7 linked regions of the Homo sapiens genome follow. The protein of the gene in region 2 purifies or fractionates together with the protein of the main gene of each other region. This does not show direct contact. Each region holds a gene or a part of one and is shown on either strand. Other genes may lie near its edges. The genes, in order: SPICE1, PHF12, CHD9, NFE2L1, BPTF, KDM5A and LIN28A.

Region 1 (4,121 bases), on a different chromosome or scaffold from region 2:
CTATAGAAATGAGGTGGTTTTTTTGTTTTGTTTTGTGTGTTGTTTGTTTGTTTTGTTTTTTTTGAGACGGAGTCTTGCTCTGTTGCCCAAGCTGGAGTGCAGTGGCATGATCTCGGCTCACTGCAACCTCTGCCTCCCGGGTTCAAGTGATTCTCCTGCCTCAGCCTCCTAAGTAGCTGGGATTACAGGCATGCACCACCACACCTGGCTAATTTTTGTATTTTTAGTAGAGACGGGGTTTCACCATGTTGGTCAGGCTAGTCTTGAATTCCTGACCTCGTGATCTGCCCGCCTCAGCCTCCCAAAGTGCTGGAATTACAGGCATGAGCCACTGCGCCCAGCCTGTTTTGTTTTTTTGAGATGGAGTCTCACTCTGTTGCTCAGGCTGGAGCGCAGTGACGCAATCTTGGCTCCCTGCAACCGCCACCTCCTGGGTTCAAGCGATTCTGCTGCCTCAGCCTCCCAAGTAGCTGGGATTACAGGTGCGTACTACCACACCTGGTGAATTTTTGTATTTTTTGTAGAGGCGGGGTTTCGCCATGTTGGCCAGGCTGGTCTCGAACTCCTGACCACAAGTGATCTGTTTGCCTCGGCCTCCCAAAGTGCTGGAATTACAGGCATGAGCCACTGCATCTGGCCAGAAATAATGTTTTAAAGGATTATTAAAGCCAGACTTTAATATACATATTAATCATCTGGGGATCTTGCTGAAATGTGGTTTCTGATTGAGTAGGTCTAGGGTAGGACCTGTGCATTTCTAATAAGTTCCCAAGTGATGCCAGTGCTGCTAGTCTGAGGACCACGCTTTGAGTAGCAAAGGTCTGCATTTTATAGTGCAGGAGTTTTGTAAGTTAAATAAACTTTGTGGGCTAACCTGGTAACTTAAACCTTCATTTCGTTGTTTCTGGGGGAGATAGGGAGTCTAAATTCCAGCTAGGGAGGGTTTATAAAAGAGCTCCAAATGCTGGTTCCAGTGATGGTAGACACTTTCTTTTACCCCTTCTAGAGCCAAGGCCGCTCCTGTCAAGTTTCTGATAGGAGGAGCTGGGCACTGTCACTGGGGATTAGAAGCTCGTGAGGTGGCTGTGTTCATAAGGGCTTTAACAACAGTGGGTTGGAGGGCTTTGGTGAGGAAGGTTAGGGTGAGGTGAGTCATAGGGTAAGGGCCATCTCTGTCAGCACTGGGTCATGGGGAATAAGGACAATATGGGTATTGAATCATAGAAGTAGACAGAAGGAACTGGCAGAAGAGGAGCCAGAAAGGAATATTGCTAGTAGGGAGCAGCCAGCCATTGGTAGTGGTGTATATAAGTAAATATCAACTGCCTCAATTTTGAGTCACTGGGAGGCATTTATATATTTGTAGTTTTGAAGATTATTCATAACAGGCAACTCTTGGTTTAAAAAAGACAGCAGAGTCTAATGTTTTGCTTGCCTCCTTTTCTAATTAGTATGTAGATCAAGCTGGAAGGGACTATCTAATATTTCTGTCTTCACTACCCTCTTTTGTTTTAATTGGAAATACAAAATGATCTTTAATTCATACTGATTTTCCTATTTATTTATTTATTTATTACTAATAGACATAAGCTAAAAATCAGTGATTTTTATTAGGGATTATTTTTTTCCAAAGAGAAATGAAATAACTAGGACTGAAATAATGACATAATTAGGAATAATGAAATAATTAGGAATGACATAAGCACATTTGGGGGGGGAATTTTCAAATTAAATTTATGCTATATTTTTTGGGCGGCTATTTTTTACCCTACCTCTCATATTTCTTTCCAATCACCAACTATTCTTGAATCAGATACCTTAGGCCAAAAGTGGCTTGGGGAGGCTGACATATGGTTAGAAGGAGTGACAAGATTCCCAGAATCTTTGCCAAATGGTGCATATTTGAAGCCTGTAATTATAGAAACTTCTGTTTCCAAGATAGCAGATCCTCTTTTGTAATCTGTCAAACTGCAGATCTGTCTTCAAAGATGTGTGGCATTTACTTAGAGACCAGCTCACTTGGAGCAGTCTCTTTGCTCATGTGATCTTTTGTGCAGCTCTGCAGATACTAAGAGATACAGAAAAGCTTTTCCCAGAATATATGCTTAAAGGGACTGTAAATTCTATTGTGTGCTCACTATTCACATTTATATATAATAAGGGCTATGAATACTAACTTGCTGGCCATTAGTAAGTCAAAATTGTGTGAGATCGAGGTGGGTGGATCACGAGGTCAGGAGATGGAGACCATCCTGGCTAACACGGTGAAACCCCGTCTCTGCTAAAAATACAAAAAATTAGCTGGGCGTGGTGGCAGGTGCCTGTAGTCCCAGCTACTCGGGAGACTGAGGCAGGAGAATGGCGTGAACCCGGGAGGCAGATGTTGCAGTGAGCCGAGATAGCGCCACTGCACTCCAGCCTGGGCAACAGAGTGAGACTCTGCCTAAAAAAAAAAAAAAAATCGTGGGAGAGATTTTTCAGTATTCAGTATTCAATTTGTACTTTTTTTTTTTTTCTCCCAAAGACTTTTCCAGTAGCACAGTCTCTAACACCAGGTAGTATGGAGGAACGGATTGCAGAATTGAATCGACAAAGTATGGAGGCTCGTGGAAAACTACTGCAGTTGATAGAGCAGCAGAAACTTGTTGGTTTGAATCTTTCTCCACCAATGTCACCTGTTCAGTTACCTCTCAGAGCATGGACTGGTTGGTCACAAATTCATGATTTAAAAACTAGAAATATGAAGGTTTTCAGTTTTCTTGATTTTGCAAGTTTATATTAAGCCAAAAGAAGTATCAGAGCATATATTTTGGTGCCTTCAATTTTGCACAGAAAGAAATAGCCCTAACTCACAGGATAAGTGACAGAAATGGGATTAGAAGGCAGATCTCCTGATTATTTCTATCCTATGATGCCTATAGTTAATCTTTGGTGTCTGAGTTCCTAAATTATCGTACATCTAAATGGGATTCATTATAGTGTACGGTTCACTTAGGTCATATGCTGCAACTAAGCATGAAATATCTGAATGTTCATTTAGAATTTCATCAGCAATGAATTACAAGTTATTATTCTGTAAAACACTTAAAACATTTTCACTCAATTAAATTTTTTGTTACATTTAGGAATGTGAAAAGCTAGAGGGGATTCTGAATAATAAAATAGTAACTGAAAAAATTGTCATAGTATTCACATTCAAAAAGATACTGATGAAACGAAGTATGTATCAAGTTGCTTTTTATCAGAAATTGCATTATTAAGGCCCTCAAGGGACAGCTACATGAAGAGTACTGAGAGATTGATTTTGGCCCAGTAAAAGAGAAGGCTCTAATTGTCAGGAATAGAAAAAGCTCCATGTACCAGTAATTGATGTGTTCTCTGAGATGTTCAAACATTGGTGTTTGAAGGGGACTCATATGTCTTATTTCTGGTTGAAGTAGGTTACCTTTAAGATACCTTCCAATAAGACTTTTCCCCTCAGAAATTATTTCCTTTTTGAAATACAGACCCAGAAAGCAGACTCTTTTGGAAATTGCTGGAAAAAGATGGTAATGCATTTCCCCAGGGCTCTCTGTTTATTCTAGGCTTCCTCAAATGACAGTTTTGTCTACTGTTCTTCATAGTTATGAAGCCTAGAGACAACTTCTGATTAGAATAAATAAATCAATTAACTATATATGAACATGTACTATGTGCGAACATGTACTATGTGCGAACATGTACTATGTGCGAACATGTACTATGTGCCTGCCATGTGTGGGCTTGAATACTCTAGCATTTGAGTAGGGGAGCAGGCAACAAACAAATCAATATTTGGGATAATATCAGTTAGTGCTAAGTGCAAGGAAGAAAAATAAAGCAGATCAGCCTTAAGAATAATTTTGTGTTTAAATATACATCTTCCATTTCAGTATTTGTGTATGGTTAAAATATGCTTTTATTTATGTTATGTAATTTAGTCCTCAACATACTTTAAGAGGAGACAGGGCTAATATTATACCTATTTGATGAATAAGTAAACTGAGGTACAAAGAGGTTATGTGATTTATCAAGTTACAAAGCAAGTTGTGGATTTGCAACTGCGTTCTTTCCTGTCCAGTGATTTATCTCTAAAGTATTCT
Region 2 (4,121 bases):
AAAAAAAGGAAAAAGATAATTCTGGGGGAGGGGAAGGAAAGAAGTTCAGAAACTGAGAAAATGGAAAACTGAGTAAGCTCTGTAATGGCTAAGACCTTCAAAGATCTCTCCAAGCAGAACTAGGAACAGGAACCCAAGACAGTAGCTACATGAACAGTGACTCCACAGGCAGCACTGCTCTTGTGCTGGTCCTTTGGGGAAACTGGGGTTGGGAAGGGATATGATGATGGTTTGGCTGACCTGGTAGTGCAGTGGTACAAGTCAGTTCATTGGGCAACTGAAATTGGGTGGGGTTCCGCTCCATGGCGGCAGCAATCAGCAGCTCAAAGGGCCGCCTCAGCTGGGGCTGCACATAGTCTGGCTCCGCTGCTACTGGTTCCTCATCCACGTCAATGATGTCTTCGTCGACATCATTCTGCTCAGAGGTGGGAGTCTCTGTGCTGGCGCTGGATGTGGGTGTGCCAGGCCTGCTGGCTCTCCTTTCCAGGATCCGGGCATGGGCAATGGCCTTTAGTTCAGTTTTGCTGGCCGATCTGTCCAACAAGTCAGTGTCACTGCTGGGGGATGTAGTCCGTTTGCCAGATTTGTCCACCAGTCCATTGACATGACCCAGCTCCTTTTTCTGCTCTCGTTTCTGTGCAAATGAACAGGTGGGCCCATCATGAAAAGTACCATGAAACAAAGAGATGGGTGCTACAAAGTCCTGGTAGACCACTAATCAAAACTGTAAAAGGCCTTCACATATCACAGACTCATCTACCTGGTCACTTGGAACACTGGTCTGTTAAAGTTGACACAACTCTAACTGAACTAAAGCTGACAAAACTGTTGCATCAGAGAATCACCAAAAAGCATGGTAAGTTAGGAATAACTATACAAAATATATATCATTAACATTAACTCATTGTATGACATACAACATCTATAAAGTATAGGGTAAAGGGCTAAAAAGGTAACACAGTGAGAATAAATTTAGTGAGACCAATAGTAAAAATCAATGGGGCAGGCACGGTGGCTCACGTCTGTAATCCCAGCACTTTGGGAGGCCGAGGCAGGCAGATCACCTGAGGTCAGGAGTTCAAGACCAGCCTGGCCAACATGGTGAAACCCCATCTCTACTAAAAACACAAAAATTAGCTGGGTGTGGTGGCATGTGCCTGTAATCCCAGCTACTCAGGAGGCTGAGGCAGGAGAATCGCTTGAACCTGGGAGGCAAAGATTGCAGTGAACTGAGATTGCGCCATTGCACTCCAGCTTGGGCGACAGAGCAAGATTCCATCTCAAAAAAAAAAAAAAAAAAAATCAGTGAGATCACTATAGAGCCTTCTGACCTCCTGAATGGTTTTAAAAATAAAAACTTTGCTCAAAATAAGTGACACTTCTTAGAAAGTGGGGAAATGGAAAAAGATTAAGTGTACTCAGTAGGACTGGATATCTGATAGTACATTTTCCTCCAGGACTCCAAATAGAGTGGTCAAATGAAGGTTTAACACTGATCTCCAGGTAGGAGACCTGTGATCTTGTCCTATTTCTGCCACGGATCCCCTCTGACCTTGTGGTGACTCAGGCTGGTGGGCAGGAATTTCTTCATCTGTAAAATGAGACAGAAAAATCTTTCTCCTCCTCCTCTCAGGGATATGGTGGAGGGAGATAAAAAGGGTCATATATACGAAAGGGATAATTTGGAGTTGGAGTAGGACCTAGTCTTCCACTACGAATCATGATAGGGCCTGAATGTCAGGAGCTGATGAAGGCCAGAGGATGTATTATTTCAATCCACTTCAGTGTAAATACAAGAGGCCAAAGGGGAGTAGTGCTGGTGATGGTGGAAAAGGCAGACTTGGCACTGGTAGGCAGAGGTCCATGTGAAAGGTAAGAGAGGCATCTCAGGAGAAGTGCCATGTTAGAAAAGGGCATACTGTAATCCCCAACAAGTAGCTCTCCTTCTAGAAAACTGATGAAGAGGTAACAGAGGTTTGGAATGAGAGAATTTGGTTCAAACATTGGTTCTGTCAATACCTTTGAGTCCTTGGGAAAGTTAATCTACATTTTTGAGCCTCCGTTTCTTCCTTTCTAAAATGGAAACCTACGGCCAGCATTCGGTATCCATCTATGGCTGGATGGATAGATAATGGGATAACGTAATTAAAACACCTGGCACACGATGGGCACTAACATAATATTTCCTTTTCTCCACCGTCTTTACCCCTTTTCCTTCAGCTCCCCTAAACCTTTTCAGGTCCAGCTTTTTTGAGTGGCAAGTTTGAGAGGGCTCCTGGCTGGCAGGTGCCTCTAACAGGCCCTGCTCTAACCTAATTAGGGATGCACAGGAAAGGATCTTGGAAGGTGGAGAGGCTGGAAGACAGCCTGGTTTATGGAGAAATTTAACTACAGCTGTGGTTAGGTGGTTGACCTGGCTTTGGCTTGCTTTTAAATATGAACCCTTATGCACGTATTTGAAAAATAATGTCTGCTTGTTTACTTTCTTTCTTAAAGGCTGAAACTGTTACACACATAAACCACAATCTTAATCATCTCATCCTGTTTCTGCAACCAAGGAAGTCATCATTCATTGTGACATCATGTTCGGGGACCAGGCAAATAGAGGTGAGGTCACAACATAGGAAAGTTGCTTGGTGTATAATTAGTGTGGGGAGCACAGGGGGGTGGATTACAATGCACAGACAAATTCTAATCCATAGCCTGTAATTTGAGGGTTGGGTCAATCATAATTTGGGTGCAAGCACACCTACTTCCTTTTTTAATAAGGGAGAATTTAGCTCTTGTTACCCACAAGAGTTCTCAAAGTAGAAAATAATAAACCATGTTCTTGAAGCCAGTACTGAATTATCAAAGCTGAAGGAAGGGAAGCTAAAGAAAGATTAGGCAACTTGGGGTACAAATGCGTTCAAAATCCTCTCCGTCAGTATGCCAAGTCTCTGGATACCAGTGACTTATTTGCCCTGGGGTGAGAGAAAACTCCATTTTCCATCAAGCTGGAGAAGCAGCCTTTGTTTTTCAGCCATGGATAAGGCCACTTATTAGGAGGACAACAAGAAGGTAAGACTACTCCTGTCACTAGTGACTAAACATGGCTCAGTAAGTTAACACACCTCTTCTGCCCATTTCAGCAGCCCATGTTTGGATTTTTAGGCCCTACTGGATTCCAAACAGTCACCATGGGAAGAGTGGGGTGATTCCAGGGCTGGAAGAGACAAGAAGAAGGGACAAGAATGCCTTCAGGGCTAGGCCGTCTTAGCTCTAGCATATCAGTGCTCTGGATCAGGCTTTCTGGACAGTCTTCAGAAAGCAGCATTATTACCTTTCGGCGAACAGTGCACCGGTGACACATCCACTCTCCAGGAGGCAACATTTCTTCACTCAGTGGAGGGTTACTGTGGGGAACAGACAAGGGCAAGACTAAATAACTAGCCCTTTGAGGCAGTAGGAAAAGCCTAGCTAGGTTTGCATGTTCCTAAACTCCTATTGTGGCCAGTCCTGCAGGACTGCTAGGGTTGTCTCCTCCAAAATGCCTAAGTCAGCATCACTCATAATAACCTAAGGAGTGACCATCCCTTCCCACACCTTAGAGAGAGAAGCCAAATCCAGAGCTATTAACACTGGGTTTGTAGGGAAAGGTATAATAAAATAACTGAGAGGTCCTCCACACTGTTTTCTTAAAGCCTGTTAGTGTAGAGCCAAGCTTTTCTAACTGCTGTTCAAAGCCCTGTCACATGGTCCCACCGTTCCATCTTCCCAGACCCCTTCAGGTGCTCTTCCCACTATTCAAATGGAAGACTTCCTATTTCTTCCTCTAGAATACTCTTCCTTTAGAAAGCTATGCCTGTCAAAACTCTATTCATCCTTTCATACCTGCCTCAATCAGCTGTGATGGATTAAAGACAGCTGCAAATTATCTGCTCTGCCTCCCATCCACAGGTAGTCCCTTTCCCTCCTCTTGAATTGTGCTTGTCTTATGACTTGCTTTGACCACAGAATGCAGCAGAGGTGACAATGTTGCAACTTCCAAAGCTTGGCCTTAAGAGATCTGCAGATTCTATTTTTTAAGAAATATGCTTGGAAAGTTCCATCTCAGAGCCCTGCTGTCATGCTATGAGAGA
Region 3 (4,628 bases), on a different chromosome or scaffold from region 2:
AAAATGAAAAGTGGAAGAGCTGTTTGAAGCTACCACTTATATAAAATTAGGTTATTGCTATTATAATTGATTATTTAATATCAGTACAGAATAAATTTACAAATAATTACCTATTTTTCATGGTTATTTGTATGATAAGCTAATAACTCTTTATTTTATTTTCATGTAGGGATTATTAATGAATATATATTTCTTCCAGGGATTTCTTCCAGAAAGCATGTATGAACGTATTCTCACTGGTCCCGTTGTGAGAGAGGAAGTAAGCAGGCGGGGGAGACGGCCTAAAAGTGGAATTGCAAAGGCCACAGCAGCAGCAGCTGCTGCATCTGCCACCAGTGTTTCAGGCAATCCTTTGTTAGCCAATGGACTACTTCCAGGTGTGGATCTCACAACTCTTCAGGCCTTACAACAAAACCTACAAAACTTGCAGTCACTGCAAGTAACTGCTGGGTTGATGGGAATGCCTACCGGCCTTCCTTCTGGAGGAGAAGCTAAAAACATGGCTGCTATGTTCCCCATGCTGCTGTCAGGAATGGCTGGATTACCAAATCTGTTGGGCATGGGAGGACTCCTGACAAAGCCTACGGAATCTGGGACAGAAGACAAAAAGGGAAGTGACTCTAAGGAGTCAGAAGGAAAAACAGAAAGGACAGAGAGCCAAAGTTCAGAGAATGGTGGAGAAAACTCTGTGTCAAGTTCTCCTTCCACATCCTCTACTGCTGCATTAAATACAGCTGCAGCTGCCAACCCATTAGCTCTTAACCCACTATTACTATCTAATATACTTTATCCAGGGATGCTTCTCACTCCAGGCCTTAATCTTCATATTCCAACTTTGTCCCAGTCCAATACTTTTGATGTACAAAACAAAAACAGTGACTTAGGCTCGTCTAAGTCTGTAGAAGTAAAAGAAGAAGATTCCAGAATTAAAGATCAGGAAGACAAAGGAGGAACTGAACCAAGTCCTCTCAATGAAAACAGCACAGATGAGGGTTCAGAGAAAGCTGATGCTTCATCTGGATCTGATAGTACATCGTCGTCATCTGAGGATTCAGATTCTAGTAATGAAGACTGATTCCCAGACTCTGCACTTAAAATATGAACTGATTTTGGATTTTTTCTTTAATAATTAATTGTAAATACCCCAGTGTTGAGTGCATCAATAACTTACTGACCGAACATTTCAGTTATTTGTTTAGAAGTGCAAACTGCTTTCAGAGACTTTTTGCATGTAATATTTCTTAAGATTCATAAGTTTCTGAACTCGTATGTACTATCAAATACATAAAGGTGTAAAATTACAACAAAAGGCATTATAATTTTGTTGGGGGTTAATTTTATGAAAATTATGCTCAATAAGAGTTGTATATTTAATATATTTGCAGTGAACACAGAATACTTTATGCATATTACTGATTTAATTTGAATATAGTTTTACAGCCTCCTTGACACCTATAATTTACAGATCAAAACTCAGCAATAATTTGGGCAGCTAATGAATGTCATGAAAGCTGTAGAATCTACATCACCATCCATTGCTTTAATTACATGAAAATGCTCTAGTGTTGTGATGCACTGCTGATGTTTCCAATTCAGGTACAAGTATGTTTTAAAGAAGAAATAAGTTTCCCAATCAGCCAATTTAACTGGCTACCTGTTACCTCAGCTGAGTTAGTTTAGGAAGTTTACATTCGTTTCTAATTCTATACTTGTTTTCAGGGGTTTTTTAAACACATCCTATATATCATGTCAATCTGGCAAGAAATATGACTTGCTTTTTGCTGAGCTTAATTCAGATATCAGTAAAATTAAGTCATAAAATAATCATGTGTCATGTGACTTTGGCACCCTATAGACATACTTAGTTTTAACTTTTCAAAGTTTGGCCTCCTATTAGAAATAATCATGTCTCAGATGAGTAATGTCTGTTTCCAGGGTTCAGAAAAGGCAAACTCATGAAATGCCACTGAAAAGAACTTTCAACACAGCATACTTCATGTAAAAGAAATTGTTTGTTTGCTTTCTTTGTGTAGATTTCTATTTGTGTTTTATGTCATGGAAATATTCCAGAATTAACAGATAATAGTGGTAAAGTAATATGCAGATAGTCTAAATTCATTTTGAGTTTCTAGGTGTAAGCAGACTAAATGTTGCCCAGAATCAGTGTTGGGTTATCAGTTTATATTAAATATACTGAGTTGCCCGTTTTGAAAATGCACTTTGAATAATCTCAAAAAGATGTACAAGTTATACCTGTAAACCACAAAAGTGAAGCCTGAGGCTTCTGTTCAATTTCATAGACTCCTTTACCATGTAAAATTTGTCTGATATTTGATTTGTGATACAATTTCTCCTGCTAAAGCTGCTATTATTCTGACAAGGTAGAGGTCCAGGTTCACCTTTATATATATTTAAAACAATTAGTACTGAATTGGACATAAAAATATTGACATTCTAAGGAGAGATATATGTTAGCATTTTTCTGGTACTCAAATAAGTTAGTAGTAAAGTCTGCAAGGGCATAAATTTAGGGGGAAAAAGTGTCCCAGTTCTCTCCTACAGAAAAAATACTTTCAGTATGTTTTGATAAAACTGTTGCTTTGTCATGAGTTAGTCAATTGTATCAGGTTTTCCAAGACCTTTACCAGTAAATTATGTTTCTGTATGTAAAATAACCCCTTATTAGAGAGACAGTGTTATATGTATTTACAAAATTATATAAGTTCCATTGGGATTGTATTGATTTTGTATTTTCCCAAAATAGTACTTTGAATTGATAGTCCTTTATGCAATGTCTTAGCAATAGTCTCTATAATGCCCATCCAGGAGAAGTGGGTAGTAATTCTTCATCATGAAAATGATATATTACATATTTAGTATCTTCCCTTTGCAGTATTGCACTTTTGTTTAACTAGAATACACCTATGAGATAGCCAAAGTTTCAAACACAGTTATCTTAGTTTACCGGTGGAGTATTTCAACACCAACCACATTTCCCTTCCTCCCTCTAATTCTACCCACATGATCTTTATTCCTTCCTTTCGCCAATTAAAAAAAAAAAAAAGGAAAAAAAATCTGTAGATCTTGTCACTAAAATCTAATTTATATCAAATTTATGAGAGAAAGTATTTTCCTAATTATGGTCAAATAAATTTGGTTAACATCCTAGTGATTCTCTTTCTATATAATAAGGCAATTACAGTTTTCAAAGCATTAAGTCTAACATAACTTTAAACATTCTCTTAGGTTTCAAGACACTTCTATTTAATATTCATTGGGGAAAAGTTGTCCAGCTATCAGCTAAGAAAACACATGCAAATATGGTTGTGTAAAGTTAAGGGTTATAAGGAAAAAAAAATCAGTAGAATTACATAATACTAAAGTTGCAGTTGAAAGAATATCCAAGTATGTGTTGGTAGTTACTAAAAGAATTATAGCTGTTATTGCCTTGTATTTATAGCCCTTGTTTCAGGTTTTATGATTCAAGTCTTAGTCCAATCTTTCTTTTGGACATTTGCAATATTTACCAGTTGTGTTTTGTGTAGTCTGAATTTGCTTTCTGTAGTTGAGCAAACGTCTTAAAAAGTCATTTGTAATTTATTAAATTACTTTCTATGATGTTCTATAGAGCAAATGGAAGTTTAATTATTTTTTATTAAACATATTCTTTGACTACCCATGATGTCAGCCTCTGTACATGAGAATACTTTTTAAAATTGAATTTTATATAGAATTTATCTTATTCCAGTTATGAGAGACACCATAGTTGTAAATCTTTAAAAGGAAAATATACCGTGGAAGAATTTTTAAAACAAAAATTGGCTATAATTTTATCCACAGTATCTTAAATGCTGTCAATTTTTCATTTTGATTTAATTTTATTAATATTGTTCATTGTGGATATTGGTGACTGCAAAAAAAGCAAAAGCTGCTTCTTGGGCATTCAAATTGTTAAACCCCAATTTTGCAGCCCAATCTCAACTTCATGCTGAACATTAAGTATTATTTTCTTAAGTTTTTGGACTTTTAAAAAACTCAGAAATACTCAGAGATATTCCTCACCTCTTTAAGAAGTCCATTTTGGAAATCAATAATTATTTTTTTCCCTTAGTCTTAAGAGTGTTTCCTAACTCATTGCCATGGGTAGTGTTCTTCGTAAACATTGAAGAAAATAGTTTTTCCTCTAATTACACAACTAAAACAGTGGAGTCTCATACTCATTTAACTTGAACACATTCAACTACACTTTCATGTTTAGAAAACCTTTTTTTCATTTTTGTACAACATAACATATAAACACAAACCAACTGCTTCATCTAGTACTCACCCAGAGGAACAGTAGTCTGTTCCAGTGTTGGAGGAAGAATTGCCTATGTTGGACATTTTTGAGAAGAGATATGAGGTATAAAATGATGTATTCTGTAATTTGTGAGCTCTGTGAGAGAAAAGAGTGATTTTTTTTTTTTTTATAAAGACAAGGTCTTGCTCTGCCTCCCCTAGGGTGGAGTGCAGTGGTGCGATCACAGCCCACTGCATCCTTGACCTGTTGGGCTCAAGCAATCCTCCCTCCTCAGCCTCCTGAGTAGCTGAGACTACAGCATGCATCACCACAACGAGCTAATTTTTGT
Region 4 (3,800 bases), about 19 Mb from region 2:
TAGCTTCATCTAACAGACCCCCCAAAGGGTCAGGCAGCTCTGGGCCTGCTGTGTCATTGGCTGTGCCATTGAGCTGGGGTGGAAAGAAGAGCCCTGTCAGGTTGGTGGAGCCGAAGGTGGAGTTGAGGCTGGTAGAATTGCTGGGGGCCAACGGGAGCAGCGTGGAGCTACTGGCCACAGGCAGGCTTTCCACCTCGGGGCTGAAGAGTAAGAAGTCCTGGCTGCAGCCCCCCAGGGACGCCTGATGCAGGCTGACATTCTGATTGATGGGAGTGTTGGGGGCAAGGCTGTAGTTGGTGCTCAGTGGGTCTCCAGGAGGGGCACTGTACAGGATTTCACTTGCTGATGTGTTCACTTCCATGGCCTGGGAGGGGAGAAGAGCACCACTGTTCACTAGGAACTGACTCCCTCCCCTGGGGCTCACACACTGCAGGCACCCAACAGAGGCACAGCTGCATGGGTGTAAAGGCAAAATACTATAAACCAAAGCCCACAGTGTCAGCTCCTGACCCAGCTTCGTCCACCAGGCCTGGCAGAGATGGGTTCTTCCATGTAGGCTCCACCCTAATATAGGACTGATCAGCTTTTCCTCATGTTTGGCCAGACTCCCCCATCTTGGAGGGAGAGGAAGAAAACACTACCTTGTTACTGCAAAATCAGCACAGTGAAAAGAACACCCAGACTTAAGTCAGAAAACCTAGCTGCACCACTTGCTGTGTGACGATGGGCACATCATTTAACCTCTGAGCTTCAATTTCCTCACCTTTGAGATAAAGGCTGACTAGATGACTGTGAGGGCCAAGTGAGCGAACGATGGCTGTGAAGCACCATGTGAATGTCAGCTATTATTAACGCACAACCTTGGAAGCATTCAGCCAAGTGCCTATCTGCCTGAAGGAAAGGAAGAAGGCACACCCAGGAGGCAGGCCCTGATTTGGAAGGCTGAGTCCTGAGTTTTATTTAACCCAAACCCTACCTGTCTCCAGCTCCCATTGCCCCAAGGACACACCTGGACAGGTTTCTTCTCATTGTCCCCACTTCTCTATGATTCAGGGAAAGTATTACACTTTCTCTCCTTGGAGATGGAAAAGCAACTGAGTGCTAAGACAATCTGTGCAAAATCCAATAGGTTTGTGCCCGGTTCCGACAATCCTACCTGCATTTCCATGATGGACATGAGATCTTGCCACTGCTGTTCCAAATCAAATGGTGACTCTGTCCCGGTCAGAAGAGGAGACAAGAGGTTGTTTTGAAGAGCAGGGGGCTCACTCTCACTAGGCACTGCTTCTGTTATGCTGGAAATGTCTGCTGGAAACTAGGGCAAAACACAGAGGCTTTAACAAGGGGGAAGGAAAAACCTTGTGCTTTCCTCCCAGAGATTACCACCTGGACCTGTTTCTGTTCTTCCTTCCTCTGCATTTACCCCCAGCAGCCAGAATAAGGCCAGAACCAACAGCTGGCCCCTCAGCCATGGAGGGACACACCAGGTACAGGCTGCCCTGCTCACTTGGTGGACTCTCACTGGAGTCCTGCTCACCTCAGCATTCTCCCCAAAGGGGCAGGTGGCTTCCAGCAGCCTAAGGCACTCTTCCAGGGACAGGGCCGTCTGGTCCTCCCCACTAGGCACCTGTGGCAACAGGAACTGTAAGTCTGATTGACCTGGGCCTTGGCTGCCTGGGGCTGAAGCTTCTTTCCCAGAATGGCTGAAGCCCTGCAGTCTCCCTCCCATTCCCAGGCTAATGGCTGGCCCCGAGTCCCAAACTCCCAGAAACAACAGAAGAGAGTGAAAGAGTCCTGAAGCAAGCAGGAAGATGCTACATGCTCTGCCTCCCTTGCACTGTCTGTTGCCACGGCCTGGCCATTCTGCATCTGCTGCTTTCCACTCCCCCCTTCCAAGGCTCAGCCACTGTGACTTACAGACCCCAACCCAAAACAGAAATTCAGGTCCACCCCACACACCACCTGTCTTCTCTAAAGGAAGTTTCTGGAAGAACTCCAGCCTGGTTTGTGTCAGGGTAGTAGGGACAAGAAGAGAGCCCAGTGAGCAGGGGCGATGGTACCTGTGCAGGGAAGCTCTCCCCAGTCTCTCCATCCACTAGCAGGTTCCGTGCCAGAGCTTCCGCGCCCTCGCCTGCCCAGGTGTCCTGCTCGCCTCCATCTCGCAGCTCCTTCTCCACATCCTGCTCCTTCTGGCGGTGACTATAGTCAAAAACCTCACGCCCAGCCCCCAGATCAATATCCTGTCGCCAAAGGATGTCAATCAGATCTATGTCCTGAAAGACAGATCACATGACTTTAGCTCTAAGATCCCAAGGTCCCTTCCTTGTCCTGCCCCTCAGAGTTCCCTCCTAGTGTCACCCCAGTTAGTCCTGGGTGGGGCCCCTCCCAGCTCTTCACCTGCCAGCCTTTACCCCCTGGTCCCTGCACCAGCAAGTGTTCATTCATCTACTTCCAGACACTATCCCCTTCCCACAAAAAAAAAGAGCCACTAGCAAAACCATTAGTGTGACTATCACCATAAGGGTGCAAAGGATTAGGATCTGGACCAAGACACACCCAGACAAAAGGCAGGGCCGCCTCCCCCCTACATAAGAAAGAAGGGGAACATCAGGAGACACCTCTAGCTTTGGGGATTGGACCCCTTAAAACTTGGTTTGGAGGAAGCTGGCCATGGCAAGCAAGAGCGAATTGTCATGCAGAATTACTTAGCAGTGGCCAGGCTTGCATCAGCCTGTGGTACCATTTCATTTGCATAAAGGGGTGGGGTGGGCTAGAGAGGAAAATCCCTGCATTTCCAACCACCTGATGCAACCAATGACAACGCCATGCTGTCTCCAGCCCTTCCTATAGCCATTCCCCATTCCCCAGCTGGCAGCAAGAGTAAGGCTGAACACCCACAACTCCTCAAGCCCAGGCTCACCTCAAGACTCATCCCCGCCAGAATTCCCTCTCAGCTGATCCTAGCTGCTGCCTCCATTCCAGGGAGGCTCAGGCAGTCAGATGATCCCCAGGGGTGCACCCCACCCCCTGCTCGGGCCAGCCTCACTGTGTCCCCTACACCAGTGCTCTCATTCCCTCACCATACCCCAGGACTCACCAAATCCCCATCAGTCAACCCCCTCAAGGACATAAACCCCATCACTGCTCAGCTACAACTGCCACCTTGGGCACCAAAAATGCTTCCCTCCCGCTCTACCCTGGTGGCTCGTGAACAGTTGCTGCACCAACTGCCACCCCCACTAACAGCATATAACCCCAATAAATAGAGCTATTTGGGCTTCCTATACATGGCACCCCCCTGTAGTCGAGCCCTCCCTACAAGCCTGAAGAAACCCTAAAGTGTTGCCTTCCATCCAGGGGTTAAAATGCAGACATACACTTTCCAGAAAGCAATTTCCTTAGATCAGACCCTCCTCCCTACCTCTAAGTCGGTATTCTTCTCCCATTAACCCCCCCTGACCCTAAGACCTCCCAGACGTACTACTTTAGTCTCCCCACATACACCAACCTGAACAGAAGCCCTGGACCCAGGAGCAGAGGCGGGCTGGGCCACCCGGTGACCAGCCAGCAAAGAGTTAAGGGGCCGGCTGCCTTTGGCATGGCCCCCACCACTGTGAGAGCTGCGGTCCAGGCGGGTCATGGTCTGCGAGATGAGCCCCAGGGCAGCCGGTGCCGGGAAGCCGGACAGGGGGCTGCAAGGAGCTCTTGGCTTTCAGGGAGCACACCAGGCTGGAAGGGTGGCCCCTTGCTAGCTCCGAGGGGCCTGAGGAGGGTGCCCCGCCCGTGCTGCTGCCTGGGCG
Region 5 (4,121 bases), about 39 Mb from region 2:
ACATGTTAACTTCCTCTTCACCCTACCACCAAGGACAACAAATAATGGAAAGTCATCTCACACATGACCCCAAATCTTATTGCAGAAATGCAATACCATCACATACACAAATAATGCTGGGCCCAGAGTCTCCACAAAGGAGGACTTCACTCAGCCAGAGTGCTGGGGCTACCCAAGCTGTGCAGGATTTAGGGCAAATAAAAGGCTAGAGAAAAAGAGATGTTAGGTAAATTCCCCCTGGTCTAACAGAGGCAGACTGACTACAATGAGTCCAGGAGAACTTTCTGCAATGATATGAAATGCCCCAAATGCTCTACATTTGTGTGGTGCAATACATGTGGCTATAGAGCACTTGAAATGAACATATAACAGCTAGTGCCACAGGAGAAACTAACTTTTCATTTTACTTAAATTTTTTTTTTAAGAGATGGGTTCTCACTCTGTCACCCAGGCTGGAGTGTGGTGGCATGGTCCATAGCTGACTAGGGCCTCTAACTCCTGGGCTCAAGCAATCCTCCCACCTCAGCCTCCCAATTAGGTAGGACTACAGGCATGCCAACCTCTGCCAAACTATTTTAATTCTTTTGTAAAGACAGTGTCTTACTATGTTGCTCAGGCTAGTCTTCAACTGCTGCCTTAAGTGATCTTCCCACCTCAGCCTCCCAAAGTATTGGGACTACAGGTATGAGCCACCACGCTTGGCCTGCCTAGTTTTAATTAATTTAACTCTCCACATGTGGCTAGTGGCTACCATACTGGACAGTATAGAGCGTGAAAAGAATCCACAGGCTTTCTTTGACTCATCATTCAGTTCCACAATTACTTGTGCTGCCTACTGCATTCAAGAGATTGAACCAGGCACTACAGAGACTGAATGAGACTGTCCCTGCCCAAAGTAGGTTGTAATTAAAGAAGGGCCAGATATTAAAAGCCCATTTCAGCTCCATGTCTTAACAGATAAAGATAGAGATAAAGGGGTTAAATAATTAAGAGGATAAAATAATCCTTCCTAAAGGTTTATGGACTTTAGGAAGGAGCCTCAAAATACATGAATATAAAGCCTCAAAATACATGAAGATTGCTAGAACTTCAAGGAGAAACAGACAAATCCTTCACAATAGCTGCAGACTTCAAGACTTCTCTCAGTAATCAACAGAACAAGCAGAAAGTCAGACAGATCTTAGTAACATTATCAACAAACTTGACCTAATTGACATTTATGCAATACTCCACTCAACAAGAGCAGAATACAAAATTCTTTTCAAGTACATATGGAACATTCACTTAGACTGACAAAATTTTGGGGTGCAAAACAAACCTCTAAAAATGTTTTATAAAATTAAAGTCATACAAAGTATACTCTCTGAACAAAATGAAATTAAATTAGAAATCAGTAACAGAAGGATAGCTAAAAAATTCCCAAATATTTGGAAACTAAAACACTTAATGCACATGGTCCTGGAGGTTATACGGGTGGGAAACACAGGAACTTAGCCCCACCTGGCGGTAAAGGGAATGGTGATCAGAGAAGGCAGGCTGGAGAAGGTGATGGATGGATGACTAGGAGTTAGGTGTGTGAGAACTACAAAGAAATCAGTATTACTAGATCCATTCGAGATGAAGAGAAGAAATAAGGAGTGAATAAGGAAAAGAGAAATAAGGGAGATTCAGAAGTCAGTTCATCCTTGAATCCTTTTCTCCCACTCACCACATCCCAGCCTAACCAATCTATCACTAAGGATTCATTCTAACTCCTGAATTACTTTCTTCCAGGCACGGTGGCTCACACCTGTAATCCCAGCACTTTGGGAGGCCAAGGCGGGTGGATCACTTGAGGTCAGAAGTTCAAGACAAGCAAGGCCAACATGGTGAAACCCTCTTCTAGTAAAAATACAAAAATTAGCCAGGCATGGTGGCACACACCTGTAGTCCCAGCTACTCAGGAGGCTGAGACAGGAGAATCACTTGAACCCAGAAGGCAGAGGTTGCAGTGAGCCAAGATCATGCCACTGCACTCCAGCCTGGGCGACAAGAGACTCTGTCTCAAAAAAAAAAAAAAGAAAGAAATTAAAACTGAATTTGCAATAATACAGCAAATAATCCTAGTTATATACCCAAGAGAAATGAAAACATACGTACAGATAAAAACATGTACACGAATGTGCTCAGCAGCATTATTCCTAATGGCCAAAAAGTGGAAACAGTTCAGATGTCCATGAACTTAAGAAATGGATAAGCAAAACATGGTCTCTGGACACAGAGATGTGTGCCTGTAATCCTAGCTACTCTGGAGGCTGGAAGGCTGAGGCAGGAAGATTGCCTGAGTCCAGGAGTTTGAGGTCAGCCTGGGCAACACTGCAAGACCCTGTCTCCATAAAAAAAAAAAAAAGGCTGTATAGCCATACAATGAAGTGTTATTCAAATATAGTACTGATACATGTTAAGATATGCATAACGCTTGAAAACATTAGGCTAAATGATGGAAGACATATATTATATGATTCCACTTTATAAGAAATGTCCATAAGAGGCAAATCAGGCGGGGCGCAGTGGCTCACGCCTGTAATCCCAGCACTTTGGGAGGCTGAGGCGAGTGGATTACAAGATCAGGAGTTCGAGACCGGCCTGGCCAACATAGTAAAACCCTGTCTCTACTAAAAAAAAAAAAAAATACAAAAAATTAGCCAGGCACAGTGGCAGGTGCCTGTAATCCCAGCTACTTGGGAGGCTGAGGCAGGAGAATCGCTTAAACCCGGGAGGTGGAGGTTGCAGTGAGCTGAGATCCCGCCACTCCACTCCAGCCCAGGTGACAGAGCGAGACTCTGCCTCAAAAAAAAAAAAAAAAAAAAAAGAGGCGAATCAACAGGGAATCAAAGTAGATTAGTGGCTGCCAGGGATGAGCAGGAGGGAGGTGAAGAACAGGGAGTGATGCTGACGGTGCGGGCTTCTTTTGCGGGGGTATAAAAACGTGCTGGAATTAGGTAGTGTTAATGGTTGCACAACTCTGTCAATATACTAAAAAAACCACTAAATTATATACTTTACAAGGGTACATTTTACAGTATATAAATTATATCTCCATACAGCTGTTACCTTTTAAAAACTGAATTTTCATAAATATTGCTTGAAAATCATTCAGCAATTCAGAAGATGTCCAATAAATTTAGCTATTACTGTCACTATTTTTAAAATGTGACAATCACAAAATAATAGTTGAATATAACTTACTATCTAGAAAAACATAAAAATTTTAGATATATACCAGCAGACAAAACAATTAAAACATTATAATTATATTTACGTGCATTTTAATTATTTCTATACGGTCACCTTCGATCTTTTAAAGTGCATTTTAATGTATAAGTGGTTTTTTTTTTTTAAATTAAGAAACATGCTGCCTCCTGAGGCTTATCATTTTAAAAAACCAAAAGCATGAAAAAAATTAGAGGCCGGGTACGGCAGCTCACCCCTGTAATCCCAGCACTTTGGGAGGCTGAGGCAGGCGGATCACAAGGTCAGGAGTTTGAGACCAGCCTGGCCAATATGGTGAAACCCTGTCTCTACTAAAAATACAAAAATTAGACGGGCGTGGTGGCAGGCGCCTGTAGTCCCCTACTCGGGAGGCTGAGGCAGGAGAATCGCTTGAACCCAGGAGGTGGAGGTTGCAGTGAACCGAGATTATGCCACTGCACTCCAGCCTGGGTGACAGAGTGAGACTCTGTCTCATAAATAAATAAATAAAATTAGAATAATCAGTGTCAGCATTAAGCTAGTGCTGAGATCATAACCACCGTAAGCAGGCACTCAAAGAGAAGGAAGACCAAGGTGCAAAACAGGACTCAGGGAAGATCTCCCAGGAAGAGGGATTCCAGCCTGGCTAAGGAGCAGGAAGGGAAAAGGGCATCAGCTAGGATTTGCTCCTGTGTCACCCAGAATACTACTTGCCCACCATGACTACCAGTCTCTCACCCCCATGTCTCCACCATTAAGGGTCTTTAGTCAAAGGGAAGACACAGGGTCTTGAGGAAAGAGGAAAGGAGGACCTAACAGAAGAGACCAGAGTTCCTGGTCTTAACATCCCCAGTCCTGTGATACGCATGTTTCAATACAAACTTCCAAAC
Region 6 (4,121 bases), on a different chromosome or scaffold from region 2:
CATCATTATTCAGTAGGATGACCAAACAGCTCAGAAACTTAAGGGTGAAGAGTTTAGACAAGTTTTTGCTGAAATTGTGTTAATTTTTTAACATTATATTCCCTAATGTGAAAAAAAAAAACTAACTGACCTGCAAGCTGAGATTATAATAACCTTGAGATATGTTTTTTTCTCTTTTTTTTGAGATGGAGTTTTGCTCTTGTGTCCAGGCTGGAGTGCAATGGCCTGATCTTGGCTCACTGCAACCTCTGCCTCCCAGGGTCAAGCAATTCTCCTTCCTCAGCCTCCCGAGTAGCTGGGATTACAGGCATGTGCCAACACACCAGGCTAATTTTGTATTTTTTAGTAGAGATGGGGTTTCACTATCTTAGTCAGGCTGGTCTCGAACTTCTGACCTCGTGATCCGCTCACCTTGATCTCCCAAAGTGCTGGGATTATAGATTACAGGCGTGAGCCACCGCGCCCGGCTAAAATATGTTTTGTTACTACAATAATACAAATTTATTATTGCTTAATTATCTGGGAATTTTGTAAAACAACTTCTTCTTGTGGCCTTTCATATCTTATAATTTATATACTATTTTGAAATAAAAATTTATTCTTATTTAAATTGCAGTTACTTTTAGAAGATTTCACTTTTTTTTTTTTTTGAAATGGAGTCACGCCCTTGTTGCCCAGGCTGGAGTGCAGTGGTGCCATCTCGGCTCACTGCAGCCTCCACCTCCCGGGTTCAAGTGATTCTTCTGCCTCAGCCTCCCGGGTTCAAGTGATTCTCCTGCCTTGGCCTCCCAAATACCTGGGATTACAGGTGCCTGCCACCACACCTGGCTAATTTTGTATTGTTAGTAGAGACAGGGTTTCTCCATGTTGGTTAGGCTGGACTCGAACTCCTGACCTCAGATGATCCACCCGCCTCAGCCTCCCAGAGTGTTGGGATTACAGGCGTGAGCCACCATGCGTGGCCAGGAAGATTTCACTTGTAAGGAAAAACATGAGAATAATTCGTGGCATGTGGTGGCTCATACCTATAATCCCAGCACTTTGGGAGGCTGAGGTGGAAGGATTGCTTGAACCTAGGAGTTCGAGACCAGGCTAGGCAACATAGTGAGACTCCATCTCTACAAAAAATTAAAAAATAAATAATCCTGGCATGGTGGTGGACTCCTGGAGTCCCAGCTAATCAAGAGGCTGAGGCAGGAGGATTGCTTGAGCCCAGGAGGTCAAGACTGCGGTGAGCTGTCATCACACCACTGCATTCCAGCTTGAGTGACAGAGCAAGACCCTGTTTCCAAAAAAACAGAGTAACCATATTTAAATTATCTTTTATGATACATTTTAAAATTAGTGTCAGGTCAAAATTCTCTTACTAAAAAATTTGGGAAGTACGGTCTTACGCTAAAATACAGCTTGAGACTTTTTTTAATCAGTCAGGTAATGATGTTAGTAAGTAAGCACTGTGTCAAGAATTGTCTAGTATAGTTATATGAAAACCTATGGTACTAAAGAACAAATTATGCTAAATTTGGGTGGTGGGTTTCTTCTTATAGGGAACTATTAGGATAAAAATTCATCTTAAGAATGCTTTTTTGAAATTTTTATTCAATCAAAACTTACCTACTAAGTTTTGCTGTATGATGCTGTTTAAGATTCTGAATGTGTTTGACTGTAGTATGAATAAAATACAAAAAAAATTTCAAAAATTGGCTCGGCACTGTGGCTCATGCCTGTAATCCCAGCACTTTGGAAGGCTGAGGCGGATGGATCACCTGAGGTCAGGAGTTTTTGAGACCAGCCTGGCCAACATGATGAAAACCTGTCTCAGCCGGGCACGGTGGCTCATGCCTGTAATCCCAGCACTTTGGGAGGCTGAGGCAGGAGGATCACTTGAGGTCGGGAGTTCGAGACCAACCCAACCAACATGGAGAAACCTCGTCTCTACTAAAAATACAAAATTAGCCGGACGTGGTGGCACATGCCTGTAATCTCAGCTACTTGGGAGGCCGAGGCAGGAGAATTGCTTGAACCCGGGAGGTGGAGGTTGTGGTGAGCTGAGATCACGCCATTGCACTTCAGCCTGGGCAATAAGAGCGGCACAACTCCGTCTAAAAAAAAAAAATAAAATAAAACCTATCTCTACTAATTATGCAAAAAATTAGCCAGGTGTGGTGGTGGGCACCTGTAATTCCATCTGCTCAGGAGGCTGAGGTAGGAAATCACTTGAAACCGGGAGGCAGAGGTTGCAGTGAGTTGAGATAGTACCACTGCACTCCAGCCTGGGCAACAAGAGTGAAACTGTGTCTGAAAAAAAAATTTTTTTTTCAAAAATTATTTTATCATTAATAGCAATATGTTGTAGTACTCTTTAATGAAGCTCTTTCTACTTTTTTTTTTTAGACAGAGTCTCACTCTTTTGCCCAGACTGGAGTGCAGTGGCACAATCTTGGCTCACTGCTACCTCCATCTCCCAGGTTCAACCGATTCTCATGCCTCAGCCTTCTGAGTAGCTGGGACTGGGATTAAAGGTGTGTGCCACCACACCCAGCTAATTTTTATATTTTTAGTAAAGATGGGGTTTTTACCATGTTGGCCAGGCTGGCCTTGAACTCCTGACCTGAAATGATCTGCCCACCTTGGCCTCCCAAAGTGTAGGGATTACAGGTGTGAGCCACTGTGCCCGGCCAATCTTTATCTCTATTTTATTTTCATAAATACCCTAAGGAATTTGCTAGAGTAAGTATTAATAGTATGAGTAGTAATCTATTGAAACTTTCTCTGTCAGTGATTTTCCATTTAAAAGGTAAACCTTAGGTTTAATCTGATGGTAAGTTAAATTGCATTTTTTTTTTTTTTTTGGAGACGGAGTCTCCCCCATCACCCAGGCTAGAGGCGTGATCTCGGCTCACTGCAACCTCCCACCTCCTGGGTTCAAGCGATTCCCCTCACTCAGCCTCAGAAGCAGCTGGGACTACAGGCGCACACCACCACGCCTGGCTAATGTTTGTATTTTTAGTAGAGACGGGGTTTCGTCATGTTGGCCAAGCTAGTCACGAACTCCTGATCTCAAGTGATCTCCCATCTTGGCCTCCCAAAATGGTGGGATTACAGGTGCAAGCCACCGTGCCCGGCTGCACTTTTCTGGTTTTCTAAAGTCATAGGATTTCAAAATAGGGAAGGGGCTTTTAGAGGTAACCTAGTCTGAATACTTAGTTGTTCACAATTCTCCTTATAACGGTCATCCAGAGTGTTTAACTCCATCTTGAGAAGCTGATTTCCTTTTAAGGTTCATACTACTAATAAAGTACACTTTGTTTAAATATTCAGAAAACTTATTGAAAATATGTTATGATTAAAGGTTAAGTGTGCTTATCTGACGGTTTATTGGAATCTTGTCTTTGTGGGTTTTTTTAAGTCCTCATGGACATCTCTTTCCCCAACCTGTGAGAATGTTTGCAAAACTGAGATTTAAAGCTAAAAGGCAGACAAACTTTGATTTGTAGTTATTTTAGTTTATAATACTTTGTTCCCTAAATGTCATTGTGAGATTGCTGCTTCTCACGTTAACTTTTTTCTTTTACATTGAGGTGTAACTTACAGTGTAATGCACAAATTTCAAGCGTACAGTTCAATAAATTTTCATATGTGTACACCTGTTTTGTAGCCATCACGCAGATCAAGATATATAACATTTTTATAGCACTCTAGTGGGTTGTTTCATCTCCTTTCCAGTCAATACTTCTTCACAAAGGTAATTTATTCTGACCTTTATCATTGGGTGACTATTTATTTCATTAACATGACATTTTATTCTAGCAAGAGGCTTGGGCTGAAAACTGCAGAAAATACTGAGAGTTGAGATGTTTTAAGGTTAGGTGTGCCCTTTTTTAAAAAAAAGATTATTTTTGGCTGACAGTTTGTTGGCATCTATTAAGTTTTTTTTTTATATATGATTTGAAAATACTATGATTCCCATTGCTTTTTGATGGGAAGCAAATTTTCAGTCTTCTGAGTCATTAAGTCATCAGCATGATGGTTTCCTGTTTTGATTAAATCACTTCATCTTTCTCCCTATTATTTTTGATAATAAAAAGTATTACTTGGAATGCCTGTAATTTAATAGACTT
Region 7 (4,121 bases), on a different chromosome or scaffold from region 2:
AAATAAATAAATAAAATAAAAGTAAAAATAGCTGGGCATGGTGGCTCAGCCACACACGGTGGCTTACGCCTTTAACCCCAGCACTTTGGGAGGCTGAAGCAGGTGGATCACGAGGTCCAGAGTTCGAGACCAGCCTGGCCAACATGGTGAAACCCTGTCTCTACTAAAAATACAAAAATTAGCCGGGTGTGGTGGTGGGCGCCTGTAATCCCAGCTACTTGGGCAGTTGGGGCAGGAGAGTTGCTTGAACCCCGGAGGCAGAGGTTTCAGTGAGCCATCATGCCACTGTACTCTAGCCTGGTTGACAGAGCAAGACTCCATCTCAAAGAAATAAATAAATAAAATAAAAATAAAATGTCACGCTATGAAGCACTGAAATATTCATTTTTCACATAATGCCTCACTTAGTATTTATACCATCATCAAAAGACCAAATAAGTAGAATACTGGAAAAAATACAAAATCAAGTGGTATTTTTATAATCAAAGCAATATGATATGCCTTATTTAAAAAAGAAAAAAAAAAAGGCCGGGTGCGCTGCCTCACGCCTGTAATCCCAGCACTTTGGGAGGCAAAGGCAGGGGATCACGAGGTCAGGAGATCGAGACCATCCTGGCTAACACGGTGAAACCCCGTCTCTACTAAAAATACAAAAAATTAGCCAGGCGTGGTGGCGGGTGCCTGTAGTCCCAGCTACTCCGGAGGCTGAGGCAGGAGAATGGCATGAACCTGGGAGGCAGAGCTTGCAGTGAGCTGAGATCGCGCCACTGTACTCCAGCCTGGGTGACAGAGCAAGACTCCGTCGCAAAACAAACAAACCAACAAACAAAAAAACAAACTCAAGATGCTCAATGATTTAAGAAATAATACTAATGGGCCGTGCGCAATGGCTCATGCCTGTAATCCCAGCACTTTGGGAAGCCGAGGCGGGCATATCACCTGAGGTCAGGAGTTTGAGACCAGCCTGACCAACATGGAGAAACCCTGTCTCTACTACTAAAAATACAAAATTAGCCAGGCGTGGTGGTGGGCATCTATAATCCCAGCTACTTGGGAGGCTGAGGTAGGAGAATCACTTGAACCCGGGAGGCGGAGGTTGCGGTGAGCCAAGATTGCGCCATTCTACTCTAGCCTGGGCAACAACAACAACAAAAAAAAAAAAAAAAAAAAAAAGAAAAAGAAAAAAAAGGAAATCATAATAATGGCTGCAAAACATGTTAAAAAACCAAACAAACAGAATAGGCCAGGCACAGTGGCTCATGCCTGTCTGTAATCCCAGCACTTTGGGGAGGCTGAGGTGGGCAGATCACATGAATCCAGGAGTTCAACACCAGCCTGGCCTACGTGACGAAATGCCATTTCTACAAAAAACACAAAAATTAGCTGGGTATGGTGCGCAGACCTGTAATCTCAGCTACTCGAGAGGCTGAGGCAATTGTTTGAACCCGGGAGGCAGAGGTTGCAGAGATGGCACCACTGTACTCCAGCCTGGGTGATGGAGCGAGACTCTGTCTGGCTCACCCCTGTAATCCCAGCAGAGGTGGGAGCATCACTTGAGCCCATGAGGCGGAGGTTGTAGTGAGCCAAGATTATGCCACTGCATTCCAGCCTGGGCGACAGAGTAAGACCCTCTCTCAGAAACAAACAAAAACACCAAAACCCTCAGAATACATTTAACAAGGTAAAAAGCCTATATGAAGAAAAAACTCAAATATATTAAAGGAAAAAATGCAAAAACATACCACGATCTTGGATTGGAAGATTGAGTGATTCTAAAGGCTATGGGAAAATATAAATTGCCAAGAATACCAGATATTACAATTTAAATTGGATATAATCAGCAGTGTAGCAACTACAAAGGGAAAAACAGCAAGTTTACAGTGGAGAAAACTGGCAGATAATACCCTAGTCAAGTTCTTTGAGTTTAGCTTTGCCTACAATGGGACACACATATCTTCTAATATGATGCACTAAGGACTTATGACTTTAAAAATGCACATCCTGAATCTAACCTTGAGGGAACATCAGACAAACCCAAACTGAGGGACATTCCTATAAAACAGGACTTCAAAAATGTCAAGGTCATAAAAAGACAAAGCCTGAAGAACTGAACAGTTCAATGAAATCCAAGATTCCAGATTGGATCTTGAAACAGGAAAAAAAAAAAAAAAATAGGACAATTGACAAAATTTGCATATGGTATATAGATAAATGTACCAGTGTTTAATTTCCTGATTATGATTAGTGTACTGAAACGATGTAAGATTGATATTCCCAGCCAGGCACAGTGGCTGATGCCTATAATCCCCAGCACTTTGGGAGGCCAAGATGGGCGGATTGCTTGAGCCCAGGAATTCGAGACCAGCTTGGGCAATATGGCAAAAACCCATCTCTACAAAATAATACAAAAATGAGCCAGGCACAGTGGTACACACCTGTAGTCCCAACTACTGGGGAGGCTGAGGTGGGAGGATCCCTTGAGCCCAGGAGGCAGAGGTTGCAGTGAGCAGAGATCACACAACTGTGCTCCAGGCTGGGTGACAGAGTGAGACCCTGTCTCAGAAAAAAAAAAAAAAGATAAATATTCCCATTCTTGGGAAATACGCACTGAAATATTTAGAGATAAAAGTGCTTACTGTCTCCAACTTATGGTTTCAAAAAAAAAACTATCTGTAGCAAGATAGAGAATGATAAAGCAAATGGGGCAAAATGTTAAGAGTCAATGAATCTGGGTAGAGGTTATGTGGGAGTGTTGGGTATTGTTCTTGCAGCCTTTTTAAAGTTTGAAATTATATCAAAATAATGTTACCGAAAGACAGTATAACCCAAGCAGATGGATCAGAGGATTAAAATGGAAAATCACAGAGATCTGAGAATATATGGAGAAATCAATAGGTAAGAAAAATAATTCAATAAATGCTGCTATAAAAATTAATAATCCATTGGGAAAGGAAGTCATATTCCTACAGACTTTGTATGATACATATGCAAAATACATTTCAGAGGATTTAAACACCTCATTGTTAAGAAAAATACTGAAAAGTTAAGACAGATAATCAGACTGGTAAAACTACAAAAATATACCATAAATCACTAAGAAAAAAGAATTACACAACATAATATAAGTAGATTATCAGTAGGAAGTCTTAGCACGACACATATACTCAGTATCTCATTGTTGCTTTAAAAAAATTGGAAATAACCTACTGGTGTATTTGAAGGGGAATGGTTGAATAAATATGGTACATCTATAATAATGAATACCACGCAGCCATTAAGAACAACGTAAAGTCTTTGGTTTGTTCACAGCCACATTTTGGTACCTGAAATAATGCCTAGCACATTTTTGAATGAATTAATGAAACAGGAGGCAGATTTTTAATCATTCAGCTGAGAAAGATCACCAAATAATATTGTTAAAAGAAAAAACAAAAAGCAAGATTTAGAACAATATGTATGGAATAATCCTATTAGAACACTGCACGTTTGTACCAAAATTTAAGGACACTGATATTTATAAAGCAGTTAGCAAACAGCCAGCAGCCATCAAGAAAAAAAAAAAAAGTAGTTGTTGATACAGCTAGTTCTGTAGCAAAGCCAGGGTCAGATGAACCCAGAGTTCCTGATTTAAAGCTCAGAGCTCATTCTATCATGCCACTTACTGCACCACCAACTTGACATTAGCGGAGGTGACAGCATCTCAGACCCTACCCAGAATAGACTTCATTACAGCTTCATCTATTATAGTAAAACAACAGTGTCAAATATGTCAACAAGGAGTAGTCGTCATAGAAAATGGAGAAGCAAAAGGGATCACTGTGCACTTACCTAGTCCTGGCTCAAGGGAACATGAGTAAGTAGCATTCGTATTTTATGCTGGTGGCTGGGGGGTAATATTCCAAACTGGAACTTAAATGAAACATGCTCTTCATCAAGATGAAGGAACCACAGATTCCTTATCACTTAATTTTTTTTTTTTTTTTTTGAGAAAGTCTTGCTCTGTCGCCCATGCTGAAGTGCAGTGACACGATCTCAGCTCACTGCAACCTCCGCCTCCTGGGTTTAAGCGATTCTTCTGGGTTTAAGCTAGGACTACAGGCGCACGCCACCACACCCAGCTA

The links.
Region 1: the proteins of PHF12 (region 2) and SPICE1 purify together in Homo sapiens (affinity purification with mass spectrometry; one large-scale study listed by BioGRID and IntAct). This does not show direct contact.
Region 3: the proteins of PHF12 (region 2) and CHD9 purify together in Homo sapiens (affinity purification with mass spectrometry, with the first as the bait; one large-scale study listed by BioGRID). This does not show direct contact.
Region 4: the proteins of PHF12 (region 2) and NFE2L1 purify together in Homo sapiens (affinity purification with mass spectrometry, with the first as the bait; one large-scale study listed by BioGRID). This does not show direct contact.
Region 5: the proteins of PHF12 (region 2) and BPTF purify together in Homo sapiens (affinity purification with mass spectrometry, with the first as the bait; one large-scale study listed by BioGRID). This does not show direct contact.
Region 6: the proteins of PHF12 (region 2) and KDM5A purify together in Homo sapiens (affinity purification with mass spectrometry; 3 studies listed by BioGRID and IntAct, with this or other methods). This does not show direct contact.
Region 7: the proteins of PHF12 (region 2) and LIN28A purify together in Homo sapiens (co-immunoprecipitation; one large-scale study listed by IntAct). This does not show direct contact.

What each region holds. Positions count from the first base shown.
Region 1 is NC_000003.12:113,448,920-113,453,040, reverse strand, and holds part of SPICE1 (spindle and centriole-associated protein 1), read left to right. Parts: intron 1-2,524; coding exon 2,525-2,705; intron 2,706-4,121.
Region 2 is NC_000017.11:28,923,669-28,927,789, forward strand, and holds part of PHF12 (PHD finger protein 12), read right to left. Parts: intron 3,396-4,121; coding exon 3,323-3,395; intron 3,061-3,322; exon of another isoform or gene 2,607-3,060; intron 635-2,606; coding exon 241-634; intron 1-240.
Region 3 is NC_000016.10:53,323,821-53,328,448, forward strand, and holds the end of CHD9 (chromodomain-helicase-DNA-binding protein 9), read left to right. Parts: intron 1-199; coding exon 200-1,075; 3' UTR 1,076-3,677; downstream 3,678-4,628. UniProt on the Homo sapiens protein: Probable ATP-dependent chromatin-remodeling factor. Acts as a transcriptional coactivator for PPARA and possibly other nuclear receptors. Has DNA-dependent ATPase activity and binds to A/T-rich DNA.
Region 4 is NC_000017.11:48,054,859-48,058,658, reverse strand, and holds part of NFE2L1 (endoplasmic reticulum membrane sensor NFE2L1), read right to left. Parts: intron 2,274-3,800; coding exon 2,061-2,273; intron 1,628-2,060; coding exon 1,538-1,627; intron 1,316-1,537; coding exon 1,157-1,315; intron 365-1,156; coding exon 1-364.
Region 5 is NC_000017.11:67,831,514-67,835,634, reverse strand, and holds part of BPTF (nucleosome-remodeling factor subunit BPTF), read right to left. Parts: intron 1-4,121. UniProt on the Homo sapiens protein: Regulatory subunit of the ATP-dependent NURF-1 and NURF-5 ISWI chromatin remodeling complexes, which form ordered nucleosome arrays on chromatin and facilitate access to DNA during DNA-templated processes such as DNA replication, transcription, and repair.
Region 6 is NC_000012.12:378,993-383,113, reverse strand, and holds part of KDM5A (lysine-specific demethylase 5A), read left to right. Parts: intron 1-4,121. UniProt on the Homo sapiens protein: Histone demethylase that specifically demethylates 'Lys-4' of histone H3, thereby playing a central role in histone code. Does not demethylate histone H3 'Lys-9', H3 'Lys-27', H3 'Lys-36', H3 'Lys-79' or H4 'Lys-20'.
Region 7 is NC_000001.11:26,420,466-26,424,586, reverse strand, and holds part of LIN28A (protein lin-28 homolog A), read right to left. Parts: intron 1-4,121. UniProt on the Homo sapiens protein: RNA-binding protein that inhibits processing of pre-let-7 miRNAs and regulates translation of mRNAs that control developmental timing, pluripotency and metabolism.